Homo sapiens: one gene and its partners. The protein of the gene in region 2 interacts with the protein of the main gene of each other region in a pairwise test. Each region holds a gene or a part of one and is shown on either strand. Other genes may lie near its edges. The genes, in order: SMIM1, CISD2, SLC13A3 and NSG1.

Region 1 (7,706 bases), on a different chromosome or scaffold from region 2:
TGAGCCCCAGGCCAGGGCCGCATGAGGGGCCCCCTAAGTGGACTGTGGCCGTTGGTCTGGGTCAGGGGGAGGGGCCTGGGCGCTCTGCTGGAGTCAAGAGGAAGCTCTCCCCGCCCACAGCCAACCAGAGGGAAGGCCAAAGGCTGCGGTTTGCTGAGCTGCTGGACCGTGGGCTCCCAGCCAGGATGGGGTGGAGGGTGATGGGGCCGGTAGCAGGGGTTAGGGCAGGCGTCTCTGGAGGGAGACACCAGCCTGCTATGGCTGGCAGGCTGCCCTCAGGCCCCTCACCTGCGGCAGCGTGAGGCCTCTTCTGTGCTGGACACAGCCCCTAGGCTGACTCCGTCCCTGCTGCCGTCCTCCCACCTACTATAGTGGACGTGGCTCTCCTGGGGCTGCATGCTGTGGGGCTGCAGCGGGAGGGGCGGGGCCTTCTCGGTGGGGAGATCAAGACAGGTGGCCAGGCTGTGGCTTCACTGTAAAACAAGCGGATGGAGGGCGGCAGTCAAGACCCCCTCTGAGGCTGCTGTTAGGAGAGGGGCACTAAGGGTCGGGGGCTGACTCCCTCACCGGGTCTGTCGCCTGACTTAACAGGTGACCTAGACACAAAGTGGTAGAGTCATTTGCCCAGGGTCAGGCCGGGAGGATGGGACCAAGCGAGAATTCCATCTCAGGCCAAGCCCTGACCTCAGGCATGTGGGAGGCCAGTGTTTCCTTCCAGCACACTCCAGGAGCCTCCCTTCCCCGGTGCTTTTATCAGGGAGCCTGCACAGCCTGCCACCCTCAAGAGACGAGGACATTGTGGCCCAATCTAGGCTGCAGCCCCTGATAACTGTCCCCCTCCTTAACCCTGCCCGATAAGGCGCCTTCTGGCCTCTGGGGAGGCTGGCCAGGGGAGGGGGGGGTGGGGCAGGGCAGCAGGTCCGGGGCAGCGGCTGGTACAGCTAGACCGGTCCCTGTCTGGGGAGGATGCGTGGCTGGCCCCAGGCAGTGGCAGCAGCTGTGTCCTCAGCCTGTGTGGGTTGCAGCCCCTCCCCCACCCACACCTCTAGGAGGGCTGGGGCTTGGGGGGCATGATGCACTGAGCACGGGGCCGGGGTGGATTCAAGGCCTTGGGGAGGCCCTACAGAGACAGGAGGGTCGTAGGGCTGGGTGGCTGCCCAGAGCAGGAGGGGCCCGGCCCCAAGGCCAGCTCCCTGCTGGGCTCCAACTCCTGCAGACCTGGGACTCATCTTTGCATCTCGGCACTCAGCTCGGTGCCTGGCAGCCCAAGTGCCCAGAGGGGCGAGGAGACCACGGGGACTGAGCAGGAACTCCAAGCACTAGCACAGCTGCCCGGCCGGCCTGAGCCAGCCCGGACTCTAAGCACCTCCTTTACCCTCTGGCCTCTGTTTCGACCTCCTATTTACCTAAGGGGGTGTGGGGGTGGAGGAGTTGGAGGGGGCACGAGAAGTTGACAACCCACCCAGGCTGTGGGACTGGGGTCAGCTCTCTGGTCTGCTGGGCCCCCAGTGTCCCCTCTCAGCATCTGGCCCCCAGGAGTGGGGTCCTCGGGCAGGCAATGGCAGGCCCCTCACTTCTAGGAGCTGAGGCTTTGCTGGGCCCCCTCCAGCGGGGAAGGCTGACCTTCCTCCCAGGTCATCGGCACAGAGGCCTAAAGGCACAGCAGCCACTCCCCTGCAAGAAGCCAGCTCAGAAACTCAGGCCCCAGGCAGTTCTGAGACTCCCGGCACTTCCATGTCTGCCTTCCCCCAAAGCCCAGAGAGGCAGAAGGAGCTGTCTCAAAGCCATAAAGTGTGCCTTCGGTGGGAGCCCTGGCTCAGTGCAGCCTGGCACTCAGGCCCGGAGAGGCCCAGCCTCTACTGGAGTATGGGTGCTGTTTTCCCGGAGCATGTGGAGCGGTCAGCTGCCTACCCGAGGTTCACGCCCTCTTGCCTGGTGTGCAGAATCCCATTCTGGTCCCAGCAGCAATGTGCCAGCCCCAGGTAACAGCCATGACCCGGGTAAGACAAGCTTAATACCACCACCCCTGCTTTCCCAAGTCACCCAGCTGGGGTCCAGGAGCCAGGGTGCAGCAGGGGATGGGAGAGTTTGCTTCTGTGAAAGCAGCAGCAGCCACCTCCTTCTTCCAGACTCGACGTGATGGCTGGAGCTGCTGGAGCTGCAGCAGCCGCCTTGCAACCCGACATCCACGCAGCATTAGTCTCGGGAGTGCTGAGGCTCCAAGTCCACAGCAGCAGCCCACCATGGGCCTCCCGGTGGGAGGGGTCAAGCCCAGTGTGTTCAACTCTGGGATCATGGGTTCCTGTCTTGCTGACGTAGAACACGTTGTTCCCAAGTCACCCCGGTGCACAGCCACCAGAGCCGGCCCTTGAGGCTGGCCTCCCTCACTTGCTCAGTAAACGTCTCTCCACACTCATGTGATGGTCACAGGTGTGGCGGCAGGAACCCATCAGGGACTCCCCTCCAGGCCCTGGGAGGCTCCCGGATCCTGGCACCTCCTGGGGGCTTGTGAGTGCAGGAAGGCCCTAGGTACACAGGCGCCCCTCCATAGACCTCTTCACCCCACAGCGCCTCAGGGCCCCACACTTACCCGGAGAACCTTGCCTGAGGGCTGGGGCCTCTGGGCCAGGTTGCGGTCAGGGCCTGGCCAGCGGCCCGCACCTCCCAGCGGGGCAGGTCGTGGGCTGAGGTGCGGCAGACGCCTCGAGCCTAAAAAAATAAAGGTGACCGGAGAAGCCGATCTTGCTAAGGGCCGGGAAGGGAAAGTGGCTGGTGTCGGGGGTCCCCAGCAGCCACAAGGAGCCGGGCAAGGAGCCGGGCGGGCAGTTCCGGCCCTGGCCCCGCACCGCGGGTTAGGCCGGTGGGGGTCAGTCCAGGGCACGCCCCCACCCCCGCCAGTTCTCAGCCAGCGAGGCCGCGCACAGTCGCACCTGCCCACTGCGGCCGCACCGGGAAGCCGCAGCCCGGACCCCGCGCGCCTCACCTGTGTCCCCGCGTCTCTGGGCTCCGCAGGGGCCGGGCCTGGGCAGGGGGCGAGGGCGGGGGCGGGGCCACGCGGGGAAGGGCTGGAGCCAGCAGCGGGGAGGTGTCTGGTCCGGAAGGTGGCGGGGCTAGAGTGGTGGGCGGGGCCATGCGGGGAAGGTCTGGGGCCAGTAGCGGGGAGGCGCCTGGTCCAGAAGGGGCCGGGGGCGGGGCGAGAGGGGGCGGGGCGAGAGGGGGGCGGGGCCATGCGGGGAAGGGCTAGGGCCGCAGCGGGGAGGCGCCTGGTCCAGAAGGGGCTGGGGGCGGGGCGAGTGGGGCCGGGAGACGCCTCGTCCGGAAGGGGCCGGGGCTCTAGGCCGCCCAGCCCCGGGGCCAGGAGGTGCAGGGGGGCCGGGCAGGGTCTGCAGAGGGCTGCACTTTCTGCCCCCAGACGGCTCGCCCTTGGGGCCTCCAGGGTCCCCGACCTCCTTCACCCCTGCTGGAGCCCCTCCGACGCCACGAGCCTCCCAGCCCCGCGGGGACCCGGCTGCAGCGCCGACGAGACTGCGGGAGGCTCTGGGCGCGTCTGGGCCTGAATGCTGGGTTCGGGGACCCGGCCGCGGGGACCGTCCTCCTCCGGGGCTTGAGGGGCGTGGCGCCCGCACGTGGCCCACGCTCGGTGCTCGCGGCGGGAAGGGAAGCAGGTGTGGGTGGGGAGCAGAGAAGGGTAATGGGGAGAGTCCCTTCCGAAGGTGTTCAGGCGCCCAGAGCCTCAGAGGCGCCGGGGAAGCGTCGGGGACCACAGACACCGTTCCCGTGCGTAAAGCTTTCCTTCCAGGAGCGGGGGGATGGGAACAGAGCCCCCCACCCTCACCATCTTCCAGAGGGGTCCTCCAGCAAGAGAGTGCCCCAGCCAGGAGAGCCCCCAGGGCAGAAGGTCACAGACCCCTTCTGCTCAGGCGTGAGGTCTGTGCTGAGTGCTGGGCGGACACCCCGGCTCAGGCCTCTGGCAGCCTGGTGCCGCAAGGGGACCTGTTAGGAGCTAGGGGCACAGGCTGGTGTGCTGACTCCCTGTGAGTGAGCTTTGGAATGGGGAGTGTCCTTGTAGCTCAAGGTCGCAGAGGAGAGTAGGCCCCCGCGTGGATCCCAGAGAAGAAAAAGGTGGGACAGTGCCAACACCGGGGTTTAATTCTGAGTCTGAGAGCAGGACGCATGGTGGGGGCGGGTGGTTCTGGAGCTGGGCCCCGGCCTCTGCTGGGCTGACCGTATTTGGGGGCCTGGCTGGGCCTACTTGGAGGTCCCCTTCTTGGATTTGCTGGTCAGGAAGGCCTCTGACTGTTGCAGGGGGGGCACTTTGACGCCTTTCTGCTTCAGCTGATTATAGTAGTCGCTTCTCTCTGAGATAATTCTCTACACAAGAAACACAGCCGTCGAGGTGGCCTTCCCAGTTCCTCACCTTGGCCTTGAGGCCGGTCTGCACAGTCCGTGCCAGCTGCCCGGGACGCCACCCTCTCCTCCTCCTCCAGAGAGGCTTGCTGCAGCAGGGGTGTGCTGGTGAATACTTACAACCGGCTCTCCAGGGGGAGAAAAAACAAACAACCCTCGGCTTTGTGGCGTTGCCAGTTTCTGTGGTGGGAATATTCCCACAGTGGCTGATTTTCAGCCACGGAAGTGAAGTCACAGAATGCGGAGCCGGGGGCAGGTGCACACCACCAGCCCGCAGAAGCCTGCACTAAGCCCCCTCTTCAGCCCTCTTAGAGTTGTGAGGAGCCCCAGACTCCTAGAGATCTTTGAGGTCGTCACATCTGTCCCTCAAGTCCCTTCTGTCCTGTACAGAGGGAATGTTGTCCCCACCTCTCTTCCATTCTCCTCTCTGGGCCGTTGCTGGTTCATGTCAGGCTATGGCAAGCAAGCAAAGGTGCTCTTCCCTGGCTACTGTGCGGTGGGAATAACTCCCTCCATCCTCTGTCTTCCCTCTTCTCTTCCTCTTTCTCTCCCCTTCCTCCTCCCCTCCCCCAGACAACAGTACCAAGGCCGCAGAGACCTCTCTCCACATTACAGCTCTGCAGGAGAGGCACTGTCCAGGGCCCCCCACTCTGCAGAGGAAGGGAACCAGGCCCCAGGAACGTGGGTGCTGGAAGGTCAGGGGCACACACTGGGGTTCAAGGGCAGCCCCAGAGGGTGAAGTGTGGGTCTTGGGAACAAAAGCAGCTCCTGGTGAGAGGTGACCCCTTCGTAGTACACAGCCCCACACAGAGCCATAGCCGGTGCCCGGCTCCCAGAGCTCTGAGTCTTACGACACCTTGCAGGTGAGCATGCGCTGTCCATCACAGAGGGAGGCATCTATGGCTCAGAAAAGTGAGTGTGTGGCCCCCAGCTGGTGGGTGGTGACCCCCTCATGCCCAGTGACCCCAAGGCCTGAATTCTCCTACACCCCTCTACTTCTCCGAGGCCCTTGCTTGGGGACCCCTGGTCAGGAAGGAGCCCAGGAGGCTGTGGCCGGGGTGGGAGGGGTCTGCACCAGGGCCCTGGATCAGTGGGTGGTGATACCAGCGGAGGGGACCAAGCTGGACAAAGCCGGGGCTGGGCTCCTGCTGTGGGAGAATCTTCGTGCCCTGAGCGGCTTGTCCCCTCTCCACAGCGCTCAGGATGGGTTGTGGCAGTTACTGCTGGTCTCTGATGCCCGTCCCCCGTTTTGCTGAGAGTAGCTAAGACTCCCGTGCCATGCCCCCACCTGCCTTAGGATGATTTGATCCCCTCTGCCTGAGCTGAGAGAAAGGAGGGTCCTGGGGTCCAAGTGAATAGGTGACACAGGTAGGATGAGAACAGAGTCCCTGGAATCTAGGCCCCCCACAACCCCCTACCACAGCTCTGGCCTGGGGGTCTGGGGCCCGGATAGAGGCAGCTGAGCTTAGGGGTATACCTGCAGGGCTTCCAGGATGTCATTGTCAGAGATCTCGTTGGCCAAGGACTTGGTCCCGGAGATGCTAAAGGTGGCCTGGATGATCTTATTCCTTAACCTCTCGAGCTGTGAGCAAAGGGACAACACTATCATTCGCCTTTACCCAAGAAGGCACCTGGCCAGTGGGCTGCACCCCCCACCACCTTATTTTTTATGTACCAGGAAGGAACAGCTCACCCTCACTTTTCATGGCTTTAGAAACTGGAAACAGGTGTCAGAGAAGTCAATGTGGATTGTCTGAGAGCTAGGAGGTGCCGGATCCAACCCCTGACCCTGTGCGGCCCAGCCCCAAAGCCCAAAGACTCTCCTACACCAGGTGGGCTTTTCTAATTGGAAAGTAAAACCTACACACACATATATATATATTTTTAAACCAACAAACCAAAATAGTACAGAAGCCGCACGTAACCCCTGGACCATCCTCCACTGCCCAGGGGAGCTGCAGTGAGCGGACTTCCTGGCCCTTGGGGACACTCTCACTTTAGGCATTTAACAGTGCGCTGCTGGTGCTTCCTCCTTTCCATGCTGACTAGGAGGTGTCTGTGCCATGGACAGCAGCGTTGAACCTGGCCCCCGCGCACAGACCCAGAAGGCGTTCTCGTCTTCTGCTGCCATGAAGATCCTTGTCTGCCTGTACACCCGCAGCCGCCTCCCCAGAGGTAGCTAATCGTGCCTCCCAGGAAGCTGCAGAGGAAACCCCTCCAATCTGCACCCCAGGAGCCTCAGACAGGAACCCCTTGAGTTATGCGGCACGCTCAGCACGAGTTCCTCGTCCAGAAACCCTGACGACGCAGAGGTGCCCCACAGGAGCTGGGCCCGAGAGGCTCAGCCTTGCCTCCGAGTGGAAGCATGTCCACACTGCCGCTCGGACAGGTTTAAGTGACAGCAGGAATGTCATGGGCCCCTGGCCTGTGTGAGGAGTGGAATCCTTTCCTTCTTTCCAGTATTTATTGAGCGCCCAACTTTGTACAAACACCGTGCCAGGTGCTGGAGGTCGTGAGGTCACAAGGGGCTGGGCCTCTGTACTGGGGGTCCCTCCCCAGGGTAGAGGTTGGCAGCTACCCGGGGTGTCCAGCCTCACTTCCCCACACCCGTGGGGCCTCACCATCAGGCTTGGCGCTAGTTCCTGCTCACCCGGACTTAGCTTCACAATATTTCTCAGCTCAGCTTTCCAGGCTCCACCAGGTCAGTGCAGGCTGGCGCACAAATGGACACACCTAGACCGCCTCTGGTCTAACGCTTTCACCAGGACTACGGCTGGATCCCAAACTGTTTTATCAAGGGATACCAGGGGTGGGTGCCTCAGTCTGACCCAGCCGGAAGGAGGTGGACTCAAGCAGGAAAGAGGACGCAGTTGAGTTGCAGTTGGCATTTCTGGTGGGAACCTGACTTCAAAAGCCTCCATACATGACCTTGACCTTTGCTTAATTTTGGATTCTAAATCAAGGTCAGGGCCAGGCACGGTAGCTCACACCTGTATTCCCAACACTTCGGGAGGCCAAGGCAGGCAGATTGCTGGAGCCCAGGAGTTCAAGACCAGCCTGGACAGCATAGTGAGACCGTCTCTACAAAAAGCTTTTAAAATTGGCCAGGTATGGTGGCACATGCCTGTGGTCCCAGCTACTCAGGAGGCTGAGGTGGGATGACGACAGCTTGAGCCTGGGAGGCCAAGGCTGCAGTGAGCTGTTATCACCCCACTGCACTCCAGACTGGATGACAGAGAAAGACCCTGTCTCAGAAAAAAAAAAAAAAAAAAAAAAGGTCAGCTCTTTATTGATTTCCT
Region 2 (7,023 bases):
TCCACCATAATTGTAAGTTTCCTGAGGCCTCCCTAGTCATGCGTAACTGTGAGTCAATTAAACTTATTTCTTTTATAAATTACCCAGTTTGGGGTAGTATTTTTATTTTATGTTTTTATTTCTTTTATAGCAGTGTGAAAGCTAATACAGTAAATTGCTACAACAGAGAGTTGGGTACTGCTATAAAGATACCTGAAAATGTGGAAGCAATTTTGGAACTGGGTAACTGGCAGAGGTTGGAACACTTTGGAGGGCTCAGAAGACAGTAAGATGTGGGAAAGTCTGGAACTTCCTAGAGACTTATTGAATGGTTTTGACCAAAATGCTGACAGTGATATGGACAATAACATCCAGGCTGACGTGGTCTCAGCTGGAGATGAGGAACTTACTGGGAAATGGAGCAAAGGTCACTCTTGCTATGCTTTAGCAAACAGACTGGTGGCATTTTGCCCCTGCCCAAGAGACTGATGAAACTTGAGAGAGAGATGACCTGAAATCGGAACTTAGGTTTAAAAGGGAAGCAGAGCATAAAAGTTTGGAAAATTTGCAGTCTGATGATGCAACAGAAAAGAAAAACCCAGCTGGGTGCTGGTGGCCCATGCCTGTAATCCTAGCACTTTGGGAGGCTGAGGCGGGCAGATCATGAGGTCAAGACATCGAGACCGTCCTGGCCAACATGGTGAAACCCCGTCTCTACTAAAAATACAAAATTAGCTGGGCATGGTGGTGCACACCTGTAGTTCTACTCGGGAGGCTGAGGCAGGAGAATCACTTGAACCCAGGAGGCGGAGGTTGCAGCAAGCTGAGATTGTGTCACTGCACTCCAGCTTGGGTGACAGTGTGAGACTCTGTCCCCCTCCTTCCCCCCGCCCCCCCAAAAAAAAGAAAAACCCATTTTCTGGGGAGAAATTCAAGCTGGCTGCAGAAATTTGCATAAGTAACAAGGAGCCAAATATTAATTGCCAAGACAATGGGGAAAATGTCTCCAGGACATGTCAGAGGTCTTCACAGCAGGCCCTTCCATCACAGGCCCAGAGGCCTAGAAGGAAAAAATGGTTTTGTGGGCCAGGCCCAGGGCTTTGCTGCTTTGTGCAGTATTGGGACTTGATGCCCTGTGTCCCAGCCATGGCTAAAAGGGGCCAACATACAGCTTGAGCCACTGCTTCAGAGGGAGCAAGCCACAAGCCTTGGTGGCTTCCATGTGGTGTTGGGCCTGTGGGTGCATAGAAGTCTAGAATTGAGGTTTGGGAACTTCACCCTAGATTTCAAAGGATGTATGGAAACACCTGGATGTCCAGGCAGAAGTCTACTGCAGGGGTGGAGCCTTCATGGAGAACCTCTGCTAGGGCAGTGCAAAGGGGAAATGTGGGGTTGGAGCCCTCACACAGAGTCCCCACTGTGTCACTGCCTGGCAGAGCCATGAGAAGGCGGCTACCTGCTCCAGACCCCAGAATGGTATATCTAACAACAGCTTGCACCATGCATCTGGAAAAGCCGCAGGCACTCGATGCCAGCCCTTGAAGGAGCTGCCCAAGGCCATGGGAGCCTACCCCTGGCATCAGTGTTCTCCAGATGTGACATGGGGTCAAGGAGAACATTTTGGAGCTTTATGATTTAATGACTGCCCCACTGGATTTCAGACTTGCATGGGCCCTGTGGCCCTTCTGTTTTGGCCAATTTTGCCCATTTGGAATAGGTGTATTTACCCAGTGCCTGTACTGCCATTGTATCTTAAAAGGAACTAACTTATGTTTTATTTTACTGGCTCATAGGTGGAAGGGACTTGCCTTGTTTCAGATGAGACTCTGTACTGTGGACTTTTGAGTTAATGATGAAATGAATTAAGACTCTGGAGGACTGTTGGGAAGGCATGATTGATTTTGAAATGCAAAATGAATGTGAAATTTGGGAGGAGCCAGGGGTGGAATAATATGGCTTGGCTCTGTGTCCCCACCCAAATCTCACCTCTTATAATCCCCATAATTTCCACATGTTGAGGGAGGAAACTGGTGGGAGGTGATTGGATCATGGGAGTGGTTTTCCCCATGCTGTTCGCATGAGATCTGGTTTTATAAGGGGCTCTTGCCCTTTCACTCCTCACTCTTCTCTCTCCAGCCTCCTTGTGAAGAAGGTGTCTGCGCTCCCTTCTACCATGACCGTAAGTTTCCTAAGGCCTACCTAGCCATGCAGAACTGTGAGTCAACTAAACCTCTTTCCTTTATAAATTACCCATTCTTGGGTATTATCTTTTTTTTTTTTCCAGATGGAGTCTTACTCTGTCACCACGCTGGAGTGCAGTGGCATGATCTTGGCTCACTGCAATCTCCACCTCAGGGGTTCAAGTGATTCTCCTGCCTCAGCCTCCTGAGTAGCTGGGATTACAGGTGTGCATCACCAAACCCAGCTAATTTTTTTGTATTTTTAGTACAGATGGGGTTTCACCATGTTGACCAGGATGGTCTCGATCTCCTGACCTCATGATCTGCCCACCTTGGCCTCTCAAAGTACTGGGATTACAGGCATGAGCCACAGCACCTGGCCTCTTGAGTAGTTACCTTTATAGCAGTGTGAAAACAGACTAATACACCTACTATGTAGAGATACTGTGCTAAATGCAAATACAGTAGCTGTCTTATTTATATCTATGTAACCAGTGCTTAGTAATTTGCACATAACAGGACTTCAGTAAACAACTAATTCAGTTTATCTGTGGTATAAATCCAGATTTTCATATACTTGGAACCAGGTTTCTTTTGTCTGTAAAGCAGGAATAACAACTGTAAGCTCATTTGTTCAACAATATTTACTTAGTACCTACCACACTCCACAAACTGCACTATGTGGGGATACAGGCTAATAGATAAGGTCCCTTCTCTCATAGGGTATATATTTCAGAGGACAGAGACTATAAACAAGTGAACAAATAAACAAGATGATCACAGACTATAGTAACTGTTATAAAGGAAATAAAGGATGACATAAGAGAAAAACTAACCTGGGGCAAAGCAGTAGGGTGGCTGCAATTTTAGGTAAGGGGTCAGGGAAGGTTTCTGAAAAAAGAACCTTTAAGCAGAGACCTAACGAATGAGAAGCCAGGAGCTCAAGCACTTGAGCGCAGAATTTTCAAGGCACAAAGAAAAGTAAAGAGTCTTCTAACTTCATAGGATTGCTGGGAGAAACGAATGAAGTAGGAACCCACTCAGTAAAAACTACAGAACACAATTCAAACTATTAATGCATTCTGCCTTAAAACTATATAGTTAGGTAAATATTTGTCTCCTCCCCAACTAAACAAAAAATCCCTAACTCCCTACCCTTTAACAGAGACTTACATAAACCAAGACCTCAGTAAGTTTTAGCCTAATTGAGTTTGTACTCCAATAAACTGGCATTTGAGATAATTCCTACAAGGTCTGTACTTACTTGTCTTTGTTCATGGCTTATGAATAATGACAGTGTAAGTTAAAATACAGGAAGACTACTTAAAATATTTAAGAAAAAAACTTTCAGCACCTTCTAAAATTGTAATACCTCACTCACATGTATCAGGTGGTGGGACAGGTACTGAAGATACAAAAATTATAAAACACACTCCCTGTTAGAAAGGAGCTTGCCATTTAGTATGGAAGACAGACCTATAAAAGACGATCATAATACTGTGTACTATCAGCAATAATACAGAAGCAACGCAGAGGTACAAGTTATTCACTTTTTACTGGCATGAGCAAAAACTGTACAGGTTTTGATACTTAAATAGGTTTCTGAAAGATGAAGAGTACAGAAGTTCATGGGAATATGGGAGGAGGAGCTTCATTCCATGCAGAGGAAGCTGCATAGGCAAAGGTACGGAGATATGACATGCATTAAGTGTCTGGGAAACTAAGCACCATAGTATTGTTAGAATTTAATGAAAGGGAGCTGTAGAACTGAGCAGGTGCCGTATGATGACAAACTCTGATATTCAACAGGTAAGTAAGAATCTAACCTGTGCATAATAGGAAACCACTGAAATATTTGAATATTAGCCTAACTAGGAAATTGTTCACCTATGAAGTCACTCTGGTATCAGATGGAAGATGGATTAGAGGGCCACAGGAATAGCAGAGAGGGCTAGTGGAAGAAGACAAGGCAAGACAACCTGTTGAAAATCCATGGAAATGGTCTGGAAGAAAATAGTTTGAGATAAAACTAAGGTAGTGGCCATTAAAGCAGAGAAGAGAGAACAAATGTGAGCAGTAGTCTCTACTAGGATTCCCTAAACTGCAGAGAACAATGTGTTCGTGCTTGCATTTTCGTTTTCTTTTTTAGCTTAAAACAACAGAAACGTATTCACTCACAGTTCTAGTGGCGAGAAGTCCAAAATCAAGGTGTCAGCATGGTTGATTCTTTCTGGAGGATCTGAGGGAGAAGCTGTGGTGTCCCTTAGCTTGTAGGTCTATCACCCCAATCTCTGCCTCCATCTTCACATGGTGTTCTCCCTTTGTGTGTGCCCAAATTTCCTTTTTAAAATATTTTAATATAATTTCGACTTTTATTTTAGGTTGAGGAGGTAAATGTGCAGGTTTGTCATATGGGTATATTGTGTGATGCTGAGGTTTGGGATATGGCTGATCCTCCCACCTAGGTAGTGAGGATAGTACCCAATAGTCTTCAACCCTTGACCTCCTGCCTCCCTCCCCTTTAGCAGTTCCCAGTGTCTACTGTTGCCATCTTCATGTCCATGAATACACAATGTTTAGCTCCCAGTTGTAAGAATATGTGTTATTTGGTTTTCTGTTTCTGTGTTAATCTCCTTAGGATAATGGTCTCCAGCTGCATCCATATTGCTGCAAAGGATAAGATTTTGTTCATTTTTCTGTTTTGCCAATTTTTTTTTTTTTTTGAAGACAGAGTCTTACTCTGTTGCCCAGGCTGGAGTGCAGTGGCACGATCTCAGCTTACTGTGACCTCTGCCTCCTGGGTTCAAGCGATTCTCCTGCCTTGGCCTCCTGAGTAGCTGAGAATACAAGTGTGCACTACCACACCCGGCTAATTTTTGCATTTTTAGTAGAGACGGGGTTTCACCATGTTGGCCAGGCTAGTTTCGTACTCCCAACCTCAAGTGATCTGCCTGCCTCAGCCTTCCAAAGCGGTGGGATTAAAGGCATGAGCCACACCGTACCTGGCCTGTTTTGCCAATTTTTAAATGTGAGTTGTTCATCTTCTTATTGAGCTCAATACTGAGCAAGGACCTAATATACATATTGACTTTTACATCCCTTTTTTTTTTTTTTTTTTTTTGAGACGGTTTCGCTCTGCTGCCTAGGCTGGAATGTAGTGCCACGACTCAAGCAATTCTCTTGCCTCAGCCTTCCACGTATCCCACTATTAAGATAAATAACAGGACCAAAAAGGAAGAATGAAAGAACCAGCACCATCAGAGAAACAAAATCTAGGCCACTCACAGTGCCTCACACCTATAATTTCAGCACTTTGGGAGGCTGAGGTGAGTGGATAGCTTAAGCTCAGGAGCTCAAGACCAGCCTGGGCAACATGGCAAAACCCCGTCTCTAAAATAAGATACAAAAAAATGAGCCAGGTGTGGTAGCGTGCACCTGTAGTACCAGCTACTCAAGAGGTTGAGGTGGGAGGATGGCTTGAGCTTGTGAAGTCAAGGCTGCAATGAGTGGGTAGAGATCATGCCACCTGCACTCCAGCCTGGGCAACAGAGTGAAACCCTTTCTCACAAAAGAAAACCAAAATCTAGTCAGAAAAGAAAATTTCAAAGCAACTTGAATAGCTGATTTGGTCAGGCTTTGTGTCCCCACTGAAATCTCATCTTGAATTATAATCCCCATAATCTCGTGCCAAGGGAAAGACCAGGTGGAGGTAATTGGATTATGGGTGTGGTATCCCCCATGCTGTTCTGGTGATAGTGAGTGAGTTCTCATGATATCTGATGGTTTTATAAGGGGCTCTTCCTCCTTTGCTCGGCACTACTTCCTGCCATGATGTGAAGAAGGTGCCTTGTTTCCCCTTCGCCTTCCGCCATGATTGTACGTTTCCTAAGGCCTCCCCAGCCATGCTGAACTGTGAGTGGATTAAACCTCTTTCCTTTATAAATTACCCAGTCTTGCGTAGTTCTTTATAGCAGTATGAAAACGGAATAATACGGTAGCTACCAATTTTAGCATAAATTTTCTGAAAGTTTAGACATTGTCAAAATGAAGTATCTTCTTTGGGAAACAAAATTAGGTTTAACCTTTTATTATATATAGTGACACAGGCTAGCTATGACACCTATTCCTTATGACATATAAATACTATTATTAAAACATTTTTTAATAATAGCTAAAAATGACATAAAATGACATAAAAATGACATAGACAAACTCCGATCTTAATGAGGAATTACATTCCACAGAACTAGAACAGAATTTTTCCATTTCAAATTTTCAAACATCTACATATAATATAGCCATATCATCTTATGATACCATAAAAATAATACTGGCAGCTTGGTTGCTAGTTATTTTATAACATATTTTCTCATTTATCATATGTAGCTAAACACAGAAATTATTTCTATTTCTTAACTGTAGAAAAGATAAAATATTTTCAATGCATGAGTTTACTATTACCACTTAAAACCTAAGGTAGGGCTGGGCGCAGTGGCTCACACCTGTAATCCCAGCACTTTGGGCGGCCGAGGCAGACGGATTACCTGAGGTCAGGAGTTCAAGACCAGACTGGCCAACATGGTGAAACTCCGTCTCTACTAAAAATACAAAAAATTAGCCAGGCATGGTGGCACATGCCTGTAGTCCCGGCTACTTAGGAGGCTGAGGCATAAGCATCGCTTGAACCCAGGAGGCAGAGGTTGCAGTGAGCCGACACTGCACTCCAGTGTGGGCAAAAGAGACTCCCTCTCAAAAAACAAAACAAAACAAAAACCTAAGTTAAACATAAATTAGATAATCACAGTAATTTATCTTGAACGCCTCACTCTTGAAAATGTGACATAAACAAAGATAGTTAAGTTGT
Region 3 (7,023 bases), on a different chromosome or scaffold from region 2:
AAACAGAAGGCTGTTTTAGAGAGTGATTTGTGGGATGAAGAGGGCAGGTGTGCTTGAGAAGCAGGAGGACTTCTAGGAGGAGGTACCATTGGAGCCAAGGCCTAAATGACCAGAAGCACCCAGCTGTGGAAGATCTGGGGCAAGAATGGTCCAGGGAAGCAAGTGCAAAGGGCCTGAGGCAGGAGCAAGCTTGGCAGCTTTGAAGAACCAAAAGAAGGCACATGAGGCTGGGGCACAGTGAGAAAAGACAAGGGCAGGGGAAGTTGTAAAATCAGGTTTTCTAATTTCTGTATTTGAGGCTCTGAGACCCTGGAGGGACTGCCCCTTCCCAGGGCTAGCAAATTCCTAGAAAGAATAAACTACTAGCCTGCAAGCATTCCTTCATATGTGAAACAACCAATCGAGACCCCATACTCCCTACCACCTCTTTTTGAGGGATCTCACATGAATCCACCTGCCCTAATCACCCCAGAGCCAGGTACAAGACAACTAGGGGAAGCCCCTATGCCCCCAGACCCACTGAAATGATTCAAACTAACTAGCCAGTCCTAAACCTGCACACCCTGCCTTGCCCGAACATATTGCCCACAGTAAAGGCTCATGCCCACGTTTCCTCTTATTCCCTCTGCCTCCCGACAGACCCTGCTGCTCCCCTGTGTGGCCCTGTGTGGCATGGTATGCCTCCTGCTTCTAGGGCCATCTGAGTATAAAAACTTCTTTGATAATGCTGATTTCTGTGTCTGTGTGTTTATCATACCCAAATAAAACAAATTCCATTACCATTAAAACAGACACAAGGGGACAGGTGGGCAGGAGCTGGATGACACAGGGCCCTGGGGCCACAGCTGTGAGCATGGGTGTCATTTTAAATTCTACTCACCAGCTGGGGACCTTGGGCTACAACACTGCACTGTGCTGACCCTCGGTGCCTCCTCATAGGCCTCCCTTGTCTGGATGTTCTAAGCATTGGCTGCAATGCATGTGAAGTACCCAGCATAACACCTGGCGCTTAGTAGGTGCTCAGTCTATGGTTGCTTTTGCCAGTTTCTGCCCTCCTGGGTCGCTGTGCACTGGAAGTCTGCATCTAGAGTTGGGAAGATGACTCCTTGCCCTCTCCCCCTGCTCAGGACTCTTCCTGCTCCTGGCCTCTTGCGCTTCCCATTCCCCAGGAGCACCCTTCCTTCCTCTCTTCATCTTACCACATCCAGTCCAAGCGCAAAGCCAACCAGAGACAAGAAGCCTTCCCAGCTTGTCAGCCTGACCCCAGAGCTTTACGGTGAGTCACAGCCTGTCCCTGTCCCTGGATTGCCAACCTGGCTCTCGAATTAGCCTCTGATTATTCCCGGAGTGTCCAGGGTCAGCAACTTTCTGCAGGAGGCAAAGGGCCAGGGGAGATAGGCGACAGCAGGAGTCTGGAAGTCAGCCTGAGAACCATCTGCCGCCATCTGCCGCCATCTGCCAGCCTAATGTGGGCAGGGGTCTCCTCCTGTCTGCACGTGGGCTCTTCATTGGGCAAATGGAGAGAATCGTAGTAGCTCCTTCTTGGGGTCATGGTGAGGATTAATGAGAAAATGCATGCCAAGAACTTAGCACACAACTGGCATTCTTTCTTTCACTTATTCGAGACATACTTATGAGCACCTACTATGTGCCAGGCACGGGGCTGGCACCAAAGATACAATGGTAAGCAGGACAAAAAAAAAAATATCCCTGCCCTTGTGAGCTTATACCCCATGGGTGGGAAGGGGGGAAGGGGGTTAATATAGATAATGCACCAGCAGATACATAATTAAAACATAATACGTTGCCAGGTAGTGATAAAGACCGTGAAGAAAAATAAGGCAGAATGGAGTGTAAAGGATTTTTCATTTTCTATTTTAGATAGGGTCTAAAGATAGGGGCAGGGACGGCCTTTTCGGAGGTAAGATCTGAACGGAGATCAATGAAGGGAAGGAGCAAGACTTGCGGACATCTGGGAGAACAGAGGTTCAGAACGAGGGGGCTGCAAGTGCAAAGGTCCTGGGATGAGAGCAAGCTTGGGATATTTAAGGAGCAGTAAGAAAGCCAGAGCGCTGGGAGCAGAGGGCATGAGAGGTGGAGTGGGGTTGGAAGATGGATCAGCAAGGAAACGGGGACCAGAACTCCTAATAAACATACAGTAAACATGAGCTGTCCTTAACCTTTGTTGAGAGCTAGCTACGATCTGAATAGAAATAAGTGAACTTGACCTCTGACCCCCCTCACCTGTCATCTAGAAGTTAGCTGTCAAGAGATTAAATGAAATGTCTTTAGCATAAAACATTGATGAGGCCAGATACAGTTGCTCGTGCCTGTAATCCCAGAATTTTAGGAGGCTGAGAGGGGCGGATAGCTTGAGCCCAGGAGTTTGAGACCAGTTGAGTGGCATGACTCCATCTCTACAAAAAATACAAAAATTAGCCAGGCGTGGTGACGTGTGCTTGTAGTCCCAGCCACTTGGGAGACTGATGTGAGAGGATCACTTGAGCCCAGGAGGCAGAAGTTGTAGTGAGCCGGGATCATGCCACTGCACACCAGCCTGGGCAACAGAGGAAGACCCTGTCTCAAAAATAATTAATTAATTAAAATAAAAACATTGATGACCAATGCCTAAGACAGGGTACTCCCTGGAGAGGGGGATGGAAGTGCTCATCTCCGCCCTGCCCCTCACTGAAGCCTTTGGAAAATTCACTTCCTTTTCTGGGCCTCAGTTTCCTTTTTGTGGGGGTTAAACTAGAATGAGCACCAGTTTACGATGGCAACTGTAATATTAATAGCTGACAGTTACTAAGTGCTAACTATAAGCCAGCACTCCAGTAAGTGCCTCAAACATATGAACCCATTTCCTCCCCACAGCAGTATGAGGTTGAACGATGATTAGACCCAATCTCCAGATGAGAAAACTGAGGCACGGGACTGACCATTTCAACATAGTCCTTTGCACCAAATGCTACCAGCATCTCCCATTTTTTTTTCCAAATCAATTTCAAAGATCCCAACCAGAAAAGCATGTGTAAAGGTTAAATTGCCAAAAAAATAAAATAAAATGTACATGTCCTCTGAGACACACATTTTGCATGTATGAACTTATTTATTCATTGTAAAATCCTGTGAAGAAAGGACTGTGGACATTTCCATTTTTCAGCTGGGGAACTGGGTTCAGAGAGGTGAAGACACTCTTCCTGCATCACACTGCTCATCAGGGCAGAGGCTAGAGATGAATTCATATCCAAATGAATCCAAAGCCTGGAACCTTTTTGACCAAGCCAGGCTCTCTCCTGAACACCAGGGTTTGCATCCCAGGAACATGGGGCCCACATGATGGGACCCATCTGGGAATTATGGACAATTGATGCATCAAAATTCAGAGGGAGACATGGGGCTAAACTTCCCAGCCGCTCCTGGGAGAACCAGTCTGGTGGGGTGGTTTTGCCATGTATTCATCTTTTCTTGCTGCTGTAACAAATGACCCCAAATGGAGTGGCTTAAGAAACACAAATGTATTCTTTTAGAGTTTTGGAGGCCAGAATTCTGAAATCATTTTCACTAGGCTAAAGTCAAGGTGTTGGCCAGGCTGGTTCCTCCTGGAAGCTCCAGGAGAGAGAATCCATGCCTTGCCTGTTCCAGCTTCTGGAGGCCACCTGCATTCCTCAGCTCACAGCCCCACATCACATTGCTTTTTCTCCCTCTGCTTCCATCATCCTATTACCTTCCGATTTCAACTTCTCCTGCCTGCCTCTCAGAAAGCCGCCTGTGGATTACATCAGGTCCACCTGGATACTGCACAATAATCTCCCTGTTTCAAGATCCTTTACCTAATCACACCTGGAAAGTCCCTTTTTTCCATAGAAAGTAACATTCACTGGTTCAGGGGATTAGGACACCGACACCTTTGGTGGGTCACTATTCAGCCAGCCACATGCCCGAGATTTCCTTTACTTAACAGCTCACCAAGCTTCATGGTGGCAAGAAGGCCATCCATGTACAGATGAGGAAATTGAGGAGCTGGGGCTATCAGTCAACCTCAGCATCCCCAGACAAGACACGCTTCCAGGCTATGGGTCCAGTATTTCTTGAAGCATAAAAAGCCAACTCCAGAAGACTTTGGGTGGAACAATGAGGTTACCTCCCTTCTAATCCTTCTTTCCTTCTCATTATTTCCAAAACAAAGTCTCAGTTTGGTACTAGTTTGTCTTTAATGCCTCACTTGATGATATCCCTCCCCTTGCAACAAAGAGAGGGCAGATCGCAGGCCCATAGCTTCAACCAGGCAGTATGTACCCAGTATTAATCAGCGTTAAATATTTACCTATCAATTGCTAGTTTTCTTCTCCTAATCATCAGTGATGATCCTGGTTTTCCATACATGATACCCACAGAAAATCTCCTTTTAAAGTCATTGCATTTAAGTTTTTTTAAAAGGAGAGGGCAGTAAGACATTAATGTAAAAAGAATAACAGGAATGTAATTAAGTAAATAATATTGAGTGGTAAGGGACTCTGGCAAAAATGATGTGAGTGGTATTTGGATGATGGAAACCAAACCAGATTCACTCCATTCTGGGGTGCATGGGGGAAAACTCCCTGTCTGAGCTCCCTGAGGCTCAAATGAGATGATAGAAGGTAAAATCAGCAGGCAGTGTCTGGCCAGAGAAGGTGCTCAATCCGCAGAGCTGGACTTGCAGTTTTTTTCTGGAAAACCTCTGTTGGGGAAAACTCAAGGGCCTCTCTCACTTCCTGGCCGCTCTCACTTCCAAAATCCAGGACTAAGAGAGAAGGAGGAGGAGTGACCGAAGTAGTGTTTAGTAGCTGTGTGACCTTGGAATTTAACCTCTCTGTGCCTCACTTTCCTCATCTCTAAAAATGGGGATAATTTTTGTTTGAACTTCCTACATCTGATGTGAAGAGTAAATGAGCTGAAATTTGAGATGCATGTAAAACAGCATTTTGTAAATGTGAGAAAATCTGTGGCTATTGCTCTAATTATAAACTCCCACTATATGCTGAGCACCACTCTGGACACCTCCTGTATCTTCCCCTAATTCTCGTAACAGAATGAGAGGGTGTGAGTCCTCCTCACTTCACAAATGAGACTCAGCCTCAGAAATTCAAGGTTTCCAGCCCAGGCTCCCCTCTTCAGAGCCAGACACAAATCCAGGTTTTCTCAACTCTAAAGCCCATGTTCTCTCCAACATTTAACTTCTCTGAGCCTCAGTTTCATCATCTGCAAAATAGGAGAACTAAAACATATTTTCAGCATTAAATAAAAAACTAAGAATTTATAGTACAGGCACAATGTATTAACTCACTGTGGCCAGAAAATAACTGGGAAAGAATATAATATTATGGCTGTGTTATAAATGAAGAAACCAAGGCCAGAAATAGAAAATGACTTGCCCAGCAAGTATGTGGAATGCGAATGCAGTTCTGATTCCAAAGCCTCAAAACTGGGAATGAAAGGACCATCTTCCTGGTCATCTACCTGCCCACAAATTAGGCAAATGCAAGAAAGGGGGCCTCTGACCTTACAGGTGTACTACCATCCCCCCCAAATATCTCTATCCCAGAGTAAGTCTGCTGTTGGCCACCGTGACACCTTTGTGCAAATTAGAATAAAAGGCCCTTCCTCAGGTGGATCCAGCTGTGCACCAGGGTGCACAGCTTGGCATGTGGAATGCAGGCTGGTTCAGCCTTACTTGCCTCCTCAAGCACCTTGTGCAGTGCACAGCTTGCACAACACTCTGTAGCAGCCTTGCCGAGAGCATCCCCAAACTCTTCCTTCTCAGAGCATCTTTAGAGTCACCTGTGAGTCCCCAGTGTTAAGAACTCCTCTTGGACAGGTGGTCAGTATCATTTAATTTGCTCTCAGGGGGCATAAGGCAGGAAAGGGGGTAAGGCTTCTCTGCAAACAAGTGGGGCTGGAGCTTATTTGTAAGCCTGTTTTATTAATAAGAGTCCCATCTGTGCCCACTAGCTAAGATCACTCCCCAAACCTCTAACTCGCAGGATGGCCATTCTTGGAAAACGTTGATGTAGTCCCTGGGGTAGCATCCCAACTTCCTGAGCCCCCAGCACTCTTCATAGCAAGAGCTAGGATCCCCAGTGGTGCTGGAAGCGGCAGCCATGCATTCCAGAGCTCATCCCACTCCTTTTCATCCCTGCTGACAGCATTTCTGAGCCAGAGGACATAATGTAAGAATTGTTCCTTCCAGCTCTGCTCTGCAGATTGACTCCAGCCTCCCCGAAGACAAGCTCACCAGTCACCAGGAACAGGTGCATGAAAACCAACCCTCTTAACACACAGACTCCTAGAACAGCAAAGCAGCAGTGGACAGATGTCATCAAGCTGGAAACCCAGGCCCCAAAGAGGGGTTGTCTCCTACTCCACACTGCCTGGTAAATGACAAATAACTGAACATCTCCAACTTCTTTCCTGATGTGATATCTGCAGTTTCGCAAGTTGTTAGTGATCCATGTATACAATACAACCTGCATTCATGGCGCCAGAATATCCATGTGGAAGAGGCTGAGAAGTGACAATCTGATGTTGGAGTGGACGCTGAGGACGCCTGTCTTGAATTGCCCAGCAAGCATGTTTTGAAGTTAGTCCACCAGCCTCTGTTTGGGGAGGCTCTCACAGGGAGTGACTGGTGAAGATGACCAGAATTGTCTTGAAGCTCCATGTGCATAACAAACCTACTGTGCTTGCTTTAACCCATGTCCCGTTTTGCACCGAGAATACTGCACTGGCAGTGAGCTGCACTTTTTTTTTTTCTAAATGGGAAATGGATTAAATGTGTGTCCCAGATCAATAAAGATGATGATGTTTTCTAAGGATACTTCTTATTCGCATTGTATATGAAATTGAGAAACACGTCTGTTCTTAATGTCAGAGAATCTAATAATGACAATCATATAAATATTGTTATATGGGAGAGGAGGCTTCAGGTATGCCAACAGAGATTTTGAGGGAGGCGAAGGTCCTCCAAAGAGCCAGGCCTGCCTC
Region 4 (7,023 bases), about 98 Mb from region 2:
TCTTCAAGCGTTTACAGCACTAAATATTTTAGGTAACCCACACAAAAGTGAATACATACACACACACACACACACACAGATGACTGAACCCACGTGGTATCTGATTCAGCCGAAGCCCCCACACTACAGCTAGCCTGGGGAAGGTGGGCTCTGCAACCACAGCCCCAGGATCCTACAAGATGCTCGCATAGCTAAAGGTGAGGGGGCGTCCACACACACCTTCAGGGTCTCCAATACCACCCCCACGGGAAGAACCCCCACCCCCACTGCTGAATGCCAAGGAAACGGCATCACTCTTCATAAATATTTAAGAAATGCATCTTGAAACACACCAGGGGCTTACTGGAGAATGTGGAAACAGATGCGCACGCAGGAAGCTCAAGGTCATTAGGGAACACACCAGGGGCTTACTGGAGAATGTGGAAACAGATGGGCACGCAGGAAGCTCAAGGTCATTAGGGATGTGAAGAAAAGACACAAACCACCCACAGAGTCCTCTGCGACAGGATGCAGAGGGACGTCCCCACCAGAGTCTGGACTGCCAACCAGGGGGACCACGCAGACTAACGAGGGCTCTCCTGCCAAGTCACTCCCCAGCCCTGTGCTGGCGGTGAAAGGTGTTCCCGTGCAAAGCCGACCTTCAGATCTCTCAAGGCCCCAGGGTGACATGGTACCCGGTGAGGGTCAAGGCTGGACCACCCAAACCTGACCTCACATCACAGGCAAACAGGGTGTGGAGACCTCTCCAGCGTCAGCAACCGGTCATCACCGGAATCACGAAGCACGAAGGGCTGGAGCGGGCCCTGAGGGAGCCTTCCTGTCACCTGTCTGATGACGGCCCCTAATGACAGTCTCCAGACCGGAAGGAGAACTGCAAGCAGCGGCCCCAGCAGCCCCGACCCGCCACTCTGCAGGCATCAGTGGGGAAGTGCAATTTCAAAAATGTTTAGGTTTGGTTGAGAAACATCTCAGCCAGTGTTTATTCTCACTGTAAATATGCCTCCAGTTAATTAAGCGACTGCTTTCCTTGACAAGAACCTCTTTGGAAGCCCAAGCAGCTGGCCGCCGCTGGGGGAGTCCTCCTGCCATCCCGTGTGGCGGAGTCTCTCAGAACCTTCTCCCAGTCAGCAGTTACCTAGCAACCAGCCTAGTAACCTCACAGCCAAGAGATTAATCCCCAAGTGACAATCAGAAAGCTGCATGCAAAAAGACACTCCGTTTCAAGGATGCCATCCAAACGCCTATAAAGATGAGGTGCTTCTGAGCTACACAAATTGGAGAGAGGAGGGGACAAACGATTTACCTGTCACTTCAAGATCGGAAAGGCGAGATTCCATTCCTGCAATTCATGCATGGAGATGAAAGAGCTAAGATGATGGCTGGGCCAGGGAGCTGCACAGAAGCTGTCCAGTCACTAGTGGGACGAGGAAGATGCTCTGTCCCAACCACAGCTTCGACTGGGCCCTGGCAGGGGGGTACACAAGCCAGGGAGGGTGAATCTCTATTGCGGACCCTCCATCATGCCCGTGTCTCCAGCATAGCCTGCTCCCCATATGCTCCCGTTTCAGAAAGAGAGACCCGCCCAGCCCTCAACCAGCTGCAGCTTCACACACGCCTCATTGTGTGCACGCGTTCAGGGATGCCAGAAATCTAACTGGGTAATAAAAAGCTGGGAGAACATTCCAGAAAGGTGGGCACCCTTAGCATTCCCAAAAAGCACCAGCCCTCCTCATCCTTCCCAGCTTCTGTGCTGGAATGCACCCCCATCGGAAAGGCTCGAAAACTCAGGACACATTAGGATCACCTGGAAAGCATTTGTCAAAACGCATCTCCCTGCGGTTCAGGGTCCAAGTTAAAATCAAACTTCAGGTGATGCTGACTCAGGTGGCTCCAGAAACACCTGGGGAAGCAGCACTTTGGAGGCTGCCTCTCACATCCACCCCACAGCAAGTGGGCAGGGAGCTAGGTAAATCTCCTTCCCAGTTGAGAAGGGGCTCGGAGCAGGCACAGAGAAGAGATGCCCTTAGAATGCAAGTTGTTCAGCTGCGAAAGTCCAGCCTGCAGGCTTCCTGGGCAAGCTAGTGGGCTGAAGTATGCCACAGCAACAGGCTTCTAGAGCCGGCTGCCCAGCTCCTACTCTGCCTCTGCCACTCACTGACTGTGTGGTCTTGAGCAGGTCACCTGTCTGACTTGGTGAGAGCTGACAGGCATCACCTGTTAGAGGCTTACGCGTAAGCATGGCCCCGAGAGAGGCTTCAATCCAATGAGCTGCCAGCTGAACTTACTCAACAAGCAAGGACCCACGGGCAGACCCAGGAAATCTCGCCAAGTACCCCATTCATGGGAGGCCAGCAGCACAATTAGTCATCCATTTACTTATCAAGCTGTTACTGTGTGTGCAAGAAGCGCCAGAGAGATGATATCAAGGAGCTCTTACCATGGCTGGCATAGAGCGGCTGATGAGTAAGTTCCGTCTGCACAAAGAGTCCCTAAGCATTCATTCTTGGCTGACATTCTTGGCTCAGGGGGTCTCCATGGCCTTGTTCCCCTCCTCGGGTCACCAGTTCAGGTCGAGGGGGCCTATGCTTGGAAGGGCCACACCAATGGACCTTGCCAGGACACCCAGTCACAGGTTTCACACCCAAAGAGAAGACAGCCCAACCCAGACCCTCAAAAGAGAGCACCTGGGGGAAGGGAGCGTGGAAACCAGGACTCAGAAAGACACAAGAGAAAAAGAAGCTGTACACTGGGGAGGCTTCCGGGGTACCTGTGCCTGCCATGTCTCTGAAGGCCTTGGGGATGGGGAAGGAGGGCGCCGCACATTCTGTGTGGCTCAAGGCAGCAGAGCAAGGGTTTTGAATCAACAAAGGAAAAGGATTTGAAGAAGTGGAATGGCTCAACAGCGATGGCGCCTGGGGTGAGTGCTCCCACACAAACCCACTTCTCCAAGAAACCAAGGACCTCTGGTGCCACAGCCAAGAGCAGGCTGCCAAGGCTCTCTGCCTCAGTTTCCCCTCTATGTAAAATGGAGCTATAAGGGCGCCTACCTCCTGAGGTGTTTATGAAGATTAAATGAGACAATATGAGCATTAGGAGTGTGAAGCAGAGTCTAGCTCATGGATCACTCCGTCACTGTTAGATGCCATTGCAGCCTGGCTACAAAAGGCACTGGAAACAGGGCGGTGAGGTCTGTTGCAAATGAGAGTGACCCAGGAGGCTTCCTGGCAGAGGTGTGATCTGCACCTGCCCTGGGAGGAGATGGAAGGGATGGGGTCTGGGAAGCAGCAGGCGTCCCATGGGAGTGGGGAGGGATGTGGTGCAAGGTATGTTGGGAAGGCCTTGGCTTTGAAGCTAGAGAGTCACAGAGGGAGCACCCCAGCCACCCTGGGACCACCTGGGACTCAACAGCCTTACGTGTAAAGGGGCCGATGCCACCCCTTCAGGGCAGTTGTGAATCATAAAGGAGGAAAAGAAAACTAAGCAGAGGAACACACCCAGCAGACTTAGTCCAGTATAGTCATGTACTGAGCACCTACTGCATACATCGCCTTCTCAGACAGCCACAGGAGGTAGAGGCAGGGAGATGAGGCAGGGCTTCTGCTGCCAGCAGCCAGTCTATTGGGATGAGCATAATCACCCATGGTCTTCTGAGCCTTCAGGTTCTGGGCAACAGGGGCCAGGTAACCACAGAGTCCCAGCCAAGGCTGCCAAGGGCCCTGGTGGCAAATATGCATCACCCATTCCTTAGGCAAGAGACCTGGGGACCTGCTTCAGGTGGTCATGTGGGAAAAGTGCAAATGAAGAACACCAGAGGTCGGGGACAGAGGCTGGCACATCATAGACACTCAACAGATGAAGGAATAGCTGTTCAAGTGCCGCACTGCGCCCTGCTCTGTGGGGACCTAAAACGCCGGGGCTGGGAAAGCAAAGGGCAAGTGGGGCCTGAGAAACCCAGACACACTCAGACATCACACAGCATTTAGCCATCAGGACAGAGGACACCATGACCTTGAAATCAAGGCCACTCCTGCCTCAACCAGGGACAGCAGCCAAACCCAGGGTGCAAATGGGGCAGGACAGGTGAGTGGCAGCAGATAAGGCACGCGCTAATCCCACTGGCCAGCGCAGAAGACAGGTATTGACCTCGGATCAGTATGTCTTGGTCCTGGCCAAGAACCTCAAAAACGTACGATGGGCCGAGCCAGGAGCCACCAAAAGAGCCTCTCGGCACACACGACATCCTTACATACCAGCAGGGACAGACACAGACTGCTCTGTGCCTCGACTTCCCCATCTGTAACACTGGTAATACAAATAGTACCTACTATTAGTAGGGAGCAGGCAGAGGGCTGCTGGGAGGATTTGCTGAGCTGACACAAGTAATTGCCCCACAGCAACACTCATGGGACCCGCTGGACCAGGCAGGCCCTGACAGGCAGTGTGTGGCAACGGGAAGAAGGAGGGACTGAAAGTCAGATTACGCCCTGGCTTCCCCAGTCACTCTGTGGTTTTGGCTTCATCTGTTAACCAGGGATGGCTCCCAGTCCCACCTTCTGTGATCCACAAGGTTGTCACAGAGATCCAATATGATGCCATACCCACAGGGGCTCTGGAAACTGCAGCGGGTGGGGGTGGGAGTCCCTGTGCCCCCAGCACAAGCAAACTGCTCACACTGCCAAGTGGAGGGTGACCAGAGAGCCAGACAGGGCCACTCTGCAAGGCCTGGGGCCCACTGATGTCTCTCAATTCACCTCCTTGAATCTGGATGAGGCTACCGCTTTACTCTCTCTCTCTCATGTTTCCCAAAGAATGAGTTTCCTGATCAATATCCCAACTTGTTCTTCAACCAACGTGGCCTCTGAAGGCAGCCAGGCTGGCAAGAAGGCTCCTCCCACCGAGACAGGCTGGAACCCTCCCGCTCTCAGCAGCACCCCTTCATCCCATTGGGATGGGGGGAAGGATGGAGGATACACACAGGCCCAAAGCCAGACCCCCTGCAGATCAGATCCTGGCTCTGCTGTGTAGAGCTGTGACCACTCTGTGCCTCAACCTTTCCATCTGCAAAATGGGTTATACCGATAGTACTGGTGTGCCAGGAGGGTTGCTCAGATGAGCTCACTAGGTAAAGGGCTGGGACCCCTTTCTGGCATGTGATCAGTGCTGTGCGTTATCTTTTTGTTATTGCCTGCTTCCTTCCTGGAACTGTTAAGTAAATATTGTAATGTTTGGTAAGTGATTTTTCATATGTTTATAATCTTTGCCTAAAAGACAGTTTGTGGGTGGGTTTCCCCTGTTATAAAAATAAGTAATATGTGATCATTTTGGAAGAGGAAAAGAAAAAAGAAATGTACAAAAAGCACAAGGACAACATCTTGGCAGGCAGTCACAAGCTACTGGGTGTGCACAGCTGGGATGAGCCCAGACAAACGGCGTCAAACCCTGGCCCTCCCTGCAGGGCATCTATGCAGCTCAGCAGACCCCTTCTGGGGGCAAAAGCAGCATCTCACCCAGCACAGGACCACTCACCTTAAACCTCTCGGTGACACCCTCCGTGATGCTGACGGTGAACTCAGCAATTTGGGGAGGACGTGCTTTCCCTTTCTTGCGGTCAGGTTCATACTCGGTCTTAGTTTTCACGACCACCTTATCCAGGAAACAGAGAAACAAAAGTCAGATGCATTCAGACATATCTGCCCAAAGAGGGTGGGTCTGGGAACTCCCATATTCAAAGTCACCATTTGCCAGGAAGAAATTCACAAGAACGAGAACAGCCACTACTTTTTGGAAATCTCCTCTGTGGCAGGACTTTCAGAGAAATGACCCATTCATAATCCTGATAGCAGTCCCAGGAGGGAAATATTATAACCGAGGGGCACAGAAGTTAAGCTCATTGGCCAAGGTCATGCGGTTTATAGGCGGCAGGGCGGGGATGCAGCCTGGCAGCTGACTCCTAACCCAGTGCTCCTTCCACCCACCAGAGCCAAAGCCTGGCTTGGCCCAGGAAGCTGGGAGGCTGCACCTGCCTTTTCACTGGCCTTGCTGTGCCACCATGGGCACAAGAAGAGGAGGTCTGAGGGTACTGTCCACAGCCCTCCAGGACTGGCTGGAGAAGCTGGCCACCAGCTTGTCTGGAAACAGATCCAGGATCAACCTCTTTGTCTCCACCCCCACATCCTCCTCTCCCCCTGCCCCTGCCACAGCCCCCAAAGGGTCTCCCTGCTCTCATTCCCCTCCACCCCCTACTGTGAAGCAGAACGATGTTTGTCCAACCTGGAAACCAGCCCTTGCATCTGCCCTACACCCCAGCAGCTTCAGATGGACCCAAGAAGCCTCCCAGCCCTGGACACTCACAGCCCTGGCCTCAGCGGCGCTGCCTTCATCACTCACCACACCCGTTGCCAGGGACTGTTTACTTCTCTGTCCCACTGGACTGGGAGGTGTTCAAGAGCAGGGTCAAGGTGTTATAGGTCTCTAATCCCCAAACCCCGCTCCCCAAGCCAGGTTCCAGGAGAGGCTGTTGCACTAGAGACAGCCAGCCACCTCCAAGCTCTTTCTCCCCCGAGGGACGAGGCCCCTTCATTGGGCAGTCCGTCACCTGCTCTCCACGATGGTGGGGACCAGGACAGAACAAAGAGACCCCAGCAACTGGGGATGGTCAGCCCCAGGCGGGCAGCCAGAGGGCCTCTCATCCGGTGCTACGACCCCCAAAGCCAGCCTTGGGGAGAAAGAACAGCGGAGCCCATTCCAGGGTCACTGAAAAATGATCCCAAGAGCCATAAACCTTGTAACCACACTCTTGGCCTCTGACCCCAACTCCTTTTCCACCCAGTGCTCCTGCGGTGGAGAGGGAGGGGTGCCTGGCATGGGTTGGCCTGGGCACCCACCCCTGTGAGGCACTCATTGCTTGAGGCAGTGGTTGGGTGTCACCCTGCCATCCTCAAACCCCGACTGGACCCAACTAGCCATGTGACCTTGAGCACGCAGGCCTAGACTGGCCAATGAATGGGAAATAAGGCTACTGCT

What was found.
Region 1: the proteins of CISD2 (region 2) and SMIM1 interact in binary tests that used the Homo sapiens proteins (3 or more experiments, as listed by UniProt).
Region 3: the proteins of CISD2 (region 2) and SLC13A3 interact in binary tests that used the Homo sapiens proteins (3 or more experiments, as listed by UniProt).
Region 4: the proteins of CISD2 (region 2) and NSG1 interact in binary tests that used the Homo sapiens proteins (3 or more experiments, as listed by UniProt).

Annotation. Positions count from the first base shown.
Region 1 is NC_000001.11:3,768,066-3,775,771, reverse strand, and holds the start of SMIM1 (small integral membrane protein 1), read right to left. Parts: upstream 3,024-7,706; 5' UTR 2,984-3,023; exon of another isoform or gene 2,710-2,983; 5' UTR 2,591-2,709; intron 474-2,590; 5' UTR 399-473; coding exon 289-398; intron 1-288. Other genes in the region: CCDC27 (coiled-coil domain-containing protein 27), read right to left, coding at 4,249-4,371, 5,885-5,989. UniProt on the Homo sapiens protein: Regulator of red blood cell formation.
Region 2 is NC_000004.12:102,871,986-102,879,008, reverse strand, and holds part of CISD2 (CDGSH iron-sulfur domain-containing protein 2), read right to left. Parts: intron 1-7,023. UniProt on the Homo sapiens protein: Regulator of autophagy that contributes to antagonize BECN1-mediated cellular autophagy at the endoplasmic reticulum.
Region 3 is NC_000020.11:46,641,454-46,648,476, forward strand, and holds part of SLC13A3 (Na(+)/dicarboxylate cotransporter 3), read right to left. Parts: intron 1-7,023. UniProt on the Homo sapiens protein: High-affinity sodium-dicarboxylate cotransporter that accepts a range of substrates with 4-6 carbon atoms, such as the citric acid cycle intermediates succinate and alpha-ketoglutarate (2-oxoglutarate), as well as other compounds including N-acetyl-L-aspartate.
Region 4 is NC_000004.12:4,390,095-4,397,117, reverse strand, and holds part of NSG1 (neuronal vesicle trafficking-associated protein 1), read right to left. Parts: intron 5,644-7,023; coding exon 5,527-5,643; intron 1-5,526.